2 separate regions of the Homo sapiens genome follow, and region 2 is linked to region 1. Evidence: fine-mapped expression QTL. Tissue or cell type: whole blood. Region 1 holds a variant in brackets; the other region holds the start of a gene. All regions are shown on one strand. Distances are from middle to middle.

Region 1 (5,221 bases):
TTATGAGACAGGGTCTTGTTCCATTGCCCAAGCAGAAGTACAGTAGCATGATCATAGCTCACCATAGGCTCAATTTTCGGGGCTCAAGCAATCCTCCCACCTCAGGTTCCCAAAGTGCTGGAATTACAGGCATGAGCTGCCAAGTCTGGCCCCCATTTTTATTTTTTATGTTATTAGACTTTACATGGGTCTCTGGCAGATGACCAAAACCTGGATTCTGCTTTCTGACTCATTCACACCTATTTAAAAGATGTTTGACCTAATTACATGGCCATAGCTGATATAACTAGTTTTCCTTGTGTTATCTTGTTTATATTTCCCTTTCCTATATTTTCTGGTTAGCTTAAATTACTAGTTTCTTTTCTCCTCTCAAGAACAACAAAACATATAAAACCTCATTTAAATGGTATCATTATCTGTAACCATTCATATAGCTTTTTAAAACTACAGAAGCAAGTGGAAAATGGTAATATTTTAAGTCTCCCCCTTTTGAGGCAAGGGATTTAACTCTTATTTATCATAATTTTCCCTAGCTCCTAACAGACTCAATCTAAAATTTTAAACCAAAGTATTTACTTAATTTTTTTTTTTTTTTTTTTACTATATGAAAATCCTCTCTTAAAAAATGCTTGACTAGGAACCAGGGCAAGATGGCCAAAAAAGGAACAGCTCCGGTCTGCAGCTCACAGAGAGATCAACACAGAAGGCGGGTGATTTCTGCATTTCCAACAGAGGTACCCGGTTCACCTCACTGGGACTGGATAGACAGTGGGTGCAGCCCACAGACAGCGAGCTGAAGCAGGGTAGGGTGTCACCTCACCTGGGAAGCACAAGGGGTCTGGGAACTCCCTCCCCTAGCCAAGGGAAGCCATGAGGGACTGTGCCATGAGGAACAGTGCACCCTGGCCCAGATACTATGCTTTTCCCCCCAAGTCTTCGCAACCAGCAGACCAGGAGATTCCCTCCGGTGCCTATGCCACCAGGGATCTGGGTTTCAAGCACAAATCTGGGTGGCCATTTGGGCAGACACTGAGCTAGCTGCAGTTTTTTTTTTCATACCTCAGTGACACCTGGAATGCCAGCAAGACAGAACCATTCACTCTCCTGGAAAGGGGGCTGAAGCCAGGGAGCCAAGTGGTCTAGCACAGCAAATCCCACCCCTACAGAGCCCAGCAAGCTAAAATCCACTAGCTTGAAATTCTCGCTGCCAGCACAACAATCTGAAGTTGACCTGGGATGCTCAAGCTTGGTTGGGGGAGGGGCATCCACAATTACTGAGGCTTGAGTAGGCCCTATTCCCCTCACAGTGTAAACAAAGCCACCAGGAAGTTCAAACTGGGTAGACCCTACTGCAGCTTGGCAAAGCCACTATAGCTAGACTGCCTCTCTAGATTCCTCACTCTAGGCAGGGCATCTCTGAAAAAAAGCCAGCAGCCCCACTCAGGGGCTTACAGATAAAACTCCCATTTCCCTGGGAGAGGGCACCTGGGGAAAAGGGCAGCTGTGGGCACAGCTTCAGCAGACTTAAATGTTGCTGCCTGCTGGCTCTGAAGAGAGCAACAGATCTCCCAGCACAGTGCTTGAGCTCTGCTAACGGACAGACTGCCTCCTTAAGTGGGTCCCTGATACCTGTGCCTCCTGGTGGGGAGACACCTCCTACCAGGGTCAACAGACACCTCATACAGGAGAGCTCCAGCTGGCATCTGGCAGGTGCCCCTCTGGGAGGAAGCTTCCAAAGGAAGGAACAGGCAGCAATCTTTGCTGTTCTGCAGCCTCCACTGGTGATACCCAGGCAAACAGGGTCTGGAGTGGACATCCAGCAAACTCCAGCAGACCTGCAGCTGAGGGGCCTGTTAGAAGGAAAACTAACAAACAGGAATATCATCAATATCAACGAAAAGGACATCCACACAGATAACTCATCTGAAGGTCACCAACATGAAAGACCAAGGGCAGATAAATCCATGAAGATGAGGAAACGCCAGTGCAAAAAGGCAGAAAAAAAATGTGATCCTCTTCTCCTCCAAAGGATCACAACTCCTTGCCAGCAACGGAACAAAACTGGACGGAGAATGAGTTTGACAAATTGACAGAAGTAGGCTTCAGAAGGTGGGTAATAAGAAACTCCTCTGAGCTAAAGGAGCATGTTCTAACCCAATGCAAGGAAGCTACAAACCTTGAAAAAAGGTTAGAGGAGTGACAACTAGAATAACCAGTTTAGAGAAGGACCTGAATGACCTGATGTAGCCAAAAAACACAGCACGAGAACTTTGTGAAGCATACACAACTATCAATAGCTGAATCAATCAAGCAGAAGAAAGGATATCAGAGATTGAAGATGAATTTAATGAAATAAAGCATGAAGACAAGATTAGAGAAAAAAAGAATGAAAAGGAATGAACAAAGCTTCCAAGAAATATGGGACTATGTGAAAAGACCAAACCTATGTTTGATTGGTGTACCCGAAAGTGACGGGGAGAATGGAACCAAGTTGGAAAACTCTCGTCAGGATGTTATCCAGGAGAACGTCCCCAACCTAGCAATACAGGCCAACATTCAAATTCAGGAAATACAGAGAACACCACAAAGATACTCCTCGAGAAGAACAACCCCAAGACACATAATCATCAGATTCACCAAGGTTGAAATGGAGGAAAAATGTTAGGTGCAGCCAGAGAGAAAGGTTGAGTTACTCACAAAGGGAAGCCCATCAGACTAACAGCAGATCTCTCTGTAGAAACCCTACAAGCCAGAAGAGAGTGGGGGCCAATATTCAACATTCTTAAAGACAAGAATTTTCAACCCAGAATTTCATATACAGCCAAACTAAGATTTATAAGCAAAGAAGAAATAAAATCCTTTACAGACAAGCAAATGCTGAGAGATTTTGTCACCACCAGGCCTGCCTTACAAGAGCTCCTGAAGGAAGCACTAAATATGGAAAGGAAAACTGGTACCAGCCACTGCAAAAACATACCAAATTGTAAAGACCATCGACACTATGAAGAAACTGCATCAACTAACAGGCAAAATAACCAGCTAGCATCATAATGACAGGATCAAATTCACACATAACAATATTAACCTTAAGTGTGAATGGGCTAAATGCCCCAATTAAAAGACACAGACTGGCAAATTGGATAAAGAGTCAAGACCCATTGGTGTGCTGTATTCAGGAGACCCATCTCACATGTAAAGACACACATAGGCTCAAAATACAGGGATGGAGGAAGATTTACCAAGCAAATGGAAAGAAAAAAAAAAAGCAGG[G/A]GTTGCAATCCCAGTCTCTGATAAAACAGATTTTAAACCAACAAAGATCAAAAAAGAGAAAGAAGGGCATTATATAATAGTAAAGGGATCAATGCAACAAGAAGAGCTAACTATGCTAAATACATATGCACCCAATACAGGAATACCCAGATTCATAAAGCAAGTTCTTACAGACCTACAAAGAGACTTAGACTCCCACACAATAATAGTGGGAGACTTTAACACCCCACTGTCAATAATAGATCAACAAAACAGAAAATTAACAAGAATATTCAGGACTTGAACTCAGCTCTGGACAAAGCTGACCTAGTAGACATCTACAGAACTCTCCACCCCAGATGAATAGAATATACATTCTTCTCAGCACCACATCATACTTATTCTAAAATTGACCACATAATAGGAAATAAAACACTCCTCAGCAAATGCAAAAGAACGGAAATCATAACAGTCTGTCAGAACACAGTGCAATCAAATTAGAACTGAGGATTAAGAAACTCACTCAAAACTGCACAACTACATGGAAACTGAACAACCTGCTCCTGAATGACTACAGGGTAAATATGAAATGAAGGCAGAAATAAATAAGTTCTTTGAAACCAATGAGAACAAAGACACAACGTACCAGAATCTCTGGGACACATTTAAAGCAGTGTGTAGATGGAAATTTATAGCACTAAATGCCCACAGGAGAAAGAGGGAAAGATCTAAAATCAACATCATAATATCACAATTAAAAGAACCAGAGAAGCAAGAGCAAACAAATTCAAAAGCTAGCAAAAGACAAGAAATAACTAAGATCAGAGCAGAACTGAAGGAGATAGAGACACAGAAAACCCTTCAAAAAAATCAGTGAATCCAGGAGCTGGTTTTTTGAAAAGATTAACAAATATATAGACCACAAGCCAGTTTAATAAAGAAGAAGAGAGAGATGACTCAAATAGATACAATAAAAATAATAAAGGGGATGTCACCAGTGATCCCACAGAAATACAAACTACCATCACAGAATACTATAAACACCTCTACACAAATACACTAGAAAATCTAGAAGAAATGGATAAATTCCTAGACACATATACCCTCCAAGACTAAACCAGGAAGAAGTCAAATCCCTGAAGAGACCAATAACAAGTTGTGGCAGTAATGGCCTACCAACCAAAAAAAGCCCAGGACCAGATGGATTCACAGCTGAATTCTACCAGAGGTACAAAGAGGAGCTTATACCATTCCTTCTGAAACTATTCCCAACAATAGAAAAAGAGGGACTCCTCCCTAACTCATTTTATGAGGCCAACATCACCCTGATACCAAAACCTGGCAGAGGCAAAACCAAAAAAGAAAATTTCAGGCCAATATTCCTGATGAACATTGATGCAAAAATCCTCAATAAAATACTGGCAAACTGAATCCAGCAGCATATCAAAAAGCTTATTCACCATAATCAGGTCTGCTTCATCCCTGGGATACAAGGCTGGTTCAACATATACAAATCAATAAATGTAATCCATCACATAAACAGAACTAATGACAAAAACCACATGATTATCTCAATAGATGCAGAAAACGCCGTTGATAAAATTCAACAGCCCTTCATGCTAAAAACTCTCAATAAACTAGGTATTGATGGAATGTATCTCAGAATAATAAAGAGCTATTTATGACAAACCCACAGCCAATATCATACTGAATGGGCAAAAGTTGGAAGCATTTCCTTTGAAAACCAGCACAAGACAAAGATGCCCTCTCTCCCCACTCCTATTCAACATACTGTTGGAAGTTCTGGCCAGAGCAATTAGGCAAGAGAAAGAAATAAAGGGTATTCAATTAGGAAAACAGAAAGTCCAATTGTCCCTGTTGGCAGATGACATGATTGTATATCTAGAAAACCCCATCATCTCAGCCCAAAATCTCCTTAAGCTGATAAGCAACTTCAGCAAAGTCTCAGGAT
Region 2 (5,221 bases), 63 kb after region 1:
GAAAGTAATTTTGGACAATATTAAAAATGAATTCTGAAAAGGACATACTTACAGAAACATGATACTTCATGTAATAATGAATAATCCAGACAGGTACAAGTACATGAGTGAAAACAAAGATACTCTTTTTGTATACCCCATGGACCTGGGGGGAAAAACACATACACAAAATAAACATATCCCATTTTTTATATTTATGGCAGAACAAAAGGCATCAATGATGTAACAATGCCATGACTATTTTACAAAACTCTAAATGGCACATATTTTCTTATAGTCTGTAGGTAACCTCATCTACTCAAATATTCTTAGTAAATGCAGAGTCTGCTAGAAGATACCTACAAAGTCCAGACCAAAATGCTTAAGCAGTATTTTGCAAGACTATAACAAGGCATTTATAGATTTTTTAAAGACTTCCAAAAATATCCTTATTATAAGTTTGTTAAAGATAAAATATAGCAAAATAATGAAAGAATAATTTTAATGTATTTAACCAGAGTAATCAAACCTACAGAATTTTTCAGGTATAGTCATCTCCCTTATTTATTGATCAATGACACTCACATCATTTTAGGTATAAGGCAGACAACCTTGACAACGCCAATGCTGGAAAAAGGACGTTTTACATACTAAGATGGGGTGTCCCAAACTCACTCCAAAATGCCCTCTGCAACACTATTTTAAAAAAGAACTAAAAATGGAACTTTCCCATGTCTTCCAACTTGATTAAAAAACACCTATCCATTCAAGGAAGGGACAATCCAGAATCTAAGAATTATAACAGATATGATTATAAAAGAATAAATTAAAGTAAGGTAAGGTGAACTTCGACACATTATTATTTATTTACTTCCTTATATCACTTGCTGATGGATGGGATGTCAACTTTAAATCAGTGACTGCCAATATTCCGATAATGTCAGGGATACAAAGGGTGGGAGAAGAGTTGAATTTTACCACCATAAATAAGTATCCAATATCACTTTCTCAGAAAAATTTTCAACAATTCTATTGCACTAGACTTTGTAGCACAGTAAGAATCAGATACATGTTGATTACAATATGAACTCATATTCAATTCCTAGCTCCCTGACCACCAGCAAATCACTGAAGCTTTGTAGGCCTCAGTTTCTTCACATTTAAAATGAGGATTAGGAATATCTACCTTACAGGAATAAAGAAATGAAGTAACACATGTAAAACCCCCAGTAGAGTGCCAAGCACACAGCAAGCACCCGTGTGTTACGTAGTATTGTTACTACTATTATCCTGTCATCAGTAAGTGTTGCAGGTAACTGAAAGCAATTCTGAGATGTTTATCATCCATAACAGTCCTCAAGAAAATACCCAGAGGCCTTGAAAATAAAGTTCTTGAATGAGTGATTTTCTTCAAAGCCCAAAATGCGATTTTTTTAATGAAACACTGTGTTAAAAGTACAGAACGGTAGTTTAGAAAGGTAGCTCTTGAATGTGACTCACAAGGCATACCAACAGGACCCTGTCTTTTACGGGGATCACATGGGGCTGTACTATCAGCTAGGGGCTGGCTGTGCCCTCTGGTGGTTGGATACTGTGTTACTTGGTCTCTAGAACCTCACACTTAAAAGTCAGACAAGTGTCCTCAAATACTTAAATCACAGAATTTTAATTCTAGCGAGTCCTTGGTTATTATTCTGAGGGAAGATTTCTACAGTCAAAAGAGAACCAAACGTGCAGCGTCCTGGAAAACCTAAGTATTAAAATTCGCCCCCGTCCACTGTACTTGACAGTAAAAGGCATGATTCTCTCAAAGCCATACATATTCCTGGACTCCTGCCTCCCGAGACTCCAGGAGGACTCTCGGGACTGGCCAGTGTCCCAGAGCACTGAGCGTTATCAGTCCTTGGTGTGGCTGCAGGGAGCGGACGTTCAGTGTTCAGGCTGCCGGCAGCAGTGGGATGTGTTGGGGGGGACCGGAGAGGTCTGTCACTCACCATTTTCCTCCAAGGGGATTTATTCTCCAAAAATTTATTCCAGAATTTCTCCATAGGCCCCATCTTCTGTGGGGGCAGCACCGGCTCCCGAGGGCTCAGCTCCTGGTCCTTCAGCCATCGCCTTCTCAGCTCTCGCAGCTGCTGCAGCCGCAGTTTCTCATCCGGAGTGTACCCCGTCATGTCGCCGCTGGTACCAACGCAAAAGGACACGGCGCACCCTCGAACTACGGACTAGTTACTTAAGCGCGCTCCCGCTCTGCAAAGCGACCTTGCGGGAACGCCGAGCGCCGCGCGCGGTTATTACGTCACATCCTGGTTCCGCCTCTGCAAGGGCCCCAGATTCCTCGCGAGGAAAGCAGTGTGTGGGCATGCACAAAGGTCTCCACCTCCAGTTCTCTCTACGCCCACCTCCGCTATACCCGACCAAATTAGGACCGGGTGGGGACAAGGAGTACTCGTAGTTGTGGGGCCTGAGGAAAGTGACAGATTAGACGAAAGTATGCTAAATTAGAGGACTGGAGGTTTTGCTAAGGAAGAACTTGTATGCTGGGAGGAGGAAGGATAAGCATAAATGTTTCAGTGAATATGCTGGCCAGATTCAAAATTATTTGCTTGCCTCTCCCACCTTGGAATGACCTAGAGAGTGTATGAAAATAGTTACATCCCAGTTCAAATCCCAGCTATGCCAGTAACTGCTGAAGTGCCCTGGGCAGCTGTCTCATCTGTCCCTCCATCTGTACAGGAATAGTGAAAAGAGTAGCTTAATATCTAGCAAAATTGCATAGATGAATTCATGCTTTCACCCAAAAATACGTGTGGTGAAAATATGAAAGAGCATGCACGACTATTCAGCACGATTCATAATACCAAAATATTGGAAATTACCCCCAAATTCCTAAATAAAGGACTGCTTGAATAAATTGTAGTACAACAGTCAAAAGACAGCATTACAACGAATTAGTTTAAAAATCTTAATTGACTCTTATTCGTGATTCTAGAATCAAAAAACACCTCATTCTATAAAGTAGAATGAGTGTTCTGATCAGCTGAGCAGAGGCGGTTGGTTTTATTGGCAAATAGGGGCTGAAGAAAGCAGAAACCGAACAAAAAGTGGACTCATCGTTTCAAAGTTACTTTTAGGGTTAAAGCAGAAGAAACTTCCTTGTTTCACTGACTCAGACTTAAGGGAATTTCCTATTTTTTGGGAAACTGGCCCATTTCAAAGTTCAGTTTGATTGTGTGGTACTTAGCACAAACGACTCCATTCTGGTTTGGTCTGGTCTGCTGGGGCCTAGTGCGTGAAGCTAGTCCAAAACAGTGGCTTCCCAAAAACTTTCACACAACAAAGCAATGAAATGCTAATACAATCGTCAAAAGTAATAAGGAAGAACTCTATATACATCTGTGGTGTGATCTCCAGAATACATTACAAAGTGGAAAAAAAATGGATAGGAATTTGTACAGTATGCTTTTACCCAAAAAGAGAAAGATGGTGGTAATTTCAATATATATACATATTTTCTTAAATTTTCAAAATAATGGGAATGAAAACAATTGAGGTTTTTAAAGATGCTACCTATGGTGGAGGAAATAAATAGGATAGAGGAGACAGGGATAGAATCTAGACATCTCTGGAAACATCTTACTTCATAAATTTGACTTTAGAACCAAGTAAATATTTCATATTGTGAAATTAAATTTAGCTTAAAGATGTCTCCGTATTTTGAGTCCTTATATAATGAACTGCAACCCAACTTAGTATGCAATTTAACTCACAGCCTAACTTAGGAATATACTTCTGTAACAAATAACTGAGTCTCAGCCAATCATCACAGGTGGTCAACTGATCAGCCCATGTTCAAATAAGGCAAAGGCCAACCTGTAGCCAATCAAGCTGTTTCTGTATCTCATTTCTGTTTTTTTTCTATGCGTGCTGCCTGGCCTCTTTGTGGAACGATACTTTCTGAACCTCCTCTGGTTCTGAGGGCTGCCTGATTCTCAAATTGGTCATTGCTCAATTAATTTCTGCTAAATTTAATTTTTCTAAAGTTTTAATTTTAACAATATCATTACAAAACAAAATTAAATTTACAAAAAGCAGTCCATAAAAATCAAGTAAAAACCAGTAGCTCTTAATTGGTCCACTTGGTGGCATAATCTCAAAGGTACACATCATTCTAAATACAATAGCCCTTGTAACAACGCTAGGGTTAGTAGTGCCAATCCCCTCCACTTGGCACAATCAAACATCCACATATAACTTTGGACTCTCCAAAAACTTAATAGCCTACTCTTGACCAGAAGTTTTACTGATAACATACAGTCAATTAACACACATTTTGTATATGTATTATATGCTATATTATTACAATAAAGTAAGCCAGAGAAAATAAACTGTTATTAAGAAAATCATAAGGAGGCAAAGAGAGGGGTTGGTCTTGCTGTCTTGGGGTGCCAGAGGCAGAAGAAAATCCACGTATGATGGACCCTCGAAGTTCAACCTGTTTTTTTCAAGGATCAACTATAACTTTAAACCATTGAATTATTGTAAATCCACTGAGAGACAACCCGCAAAAACAAACAAAAAAAAAACAACTTAAAAAAAATCTTGGCCAGGCGTGGTGGCTCACGCCTGTAATCCCAGCACTTTGGGAGGCCAAGGCGGGTGGATCACAAGGTCAGGAGATCGAGACCTTCCTAGCTAACACAGTGAAACCCCGTCTCTACTAAAAATACAAAAATTAGCCAGGTGTGGTGGCAGGCGCCTGTAGTCCTAGCTACTCGGGAGGCTGAGGCAGGAGAATGGCATGAACCTGGGAGGCGGAGCTTGCAGTGAGCCGAGATCGCGCCACTGCACTCCAGCCTGGGTGACAGAGAGAGGCTCCGTCTCAAAAAAAAAAAAAAAAAATCTTAAACTGTTTTAAATAATCATATTGAGGATAGTGGTGTTGATCATGGTATTGTTAATCTGACACTGAAAATAACTGTTTACGTGAGTGTTGTAAAAACTGATCTTTTTTGGTATGGGGAGACATGTATATAAATTGTATGTGTTTAAGTAAAAATCCTATAGTCAAATTGTGAACAGGAAGAATCAGTATGAACTCATATTGTATTTTATCTTTAAAAATGTATATAATTTTGTCTTAGCTCTACCTGTTGATAATGGCCTAAAAGAAATTGGCAAACCAATAATCATGAGCATCTTTTGTTCTTAGGTTGTGATCTCTCATGTACATTTTCCACTG

The links. PIP is the estimated chance that this variant, and not a neighbour inherited with it, causes the effect. A credible set is the group of variants that fine-mapping cannot tell apart.
Region 2: NDUFB6 starts here. The variant in region 1 is the best candidate, but not a certain one, in a credible set for the expression of NDUFB6 in whole blood (INTERVAL, PIP 0.83).

The regions. Positions count from the first base shown.
Region 1 is chr9:32,507,660-32,512,880 of GRCh38, forward strand. All of the region lies in intron 1 of RIGI (RNA sensor RIG-I), which reads right to left. Among named protein-coding and RNA genes, the nearest start is that of RIGI, 16 kb to the right of the region's middle. RefSeq lists enhancers at 421-1,139, 1,140-1,856. The variant G/A (reference allele first, on the strand shown) is at 3,271.
Region 2 is chr9:32,570,908-32,576,128 of GRCh38, forward strand. NDUFB6 (NADH:ubiquinone oxidoreductase subunit B6) reads right to left here and starts at 2,252. Exons shown (of 4, transcript NM_002493.5): 1 at 1,974-2,252; 2 at 53-145. The coding sequence starts at 2,153. RefSeq lists enhancers at 1,800-2,339, 2,610-2,659.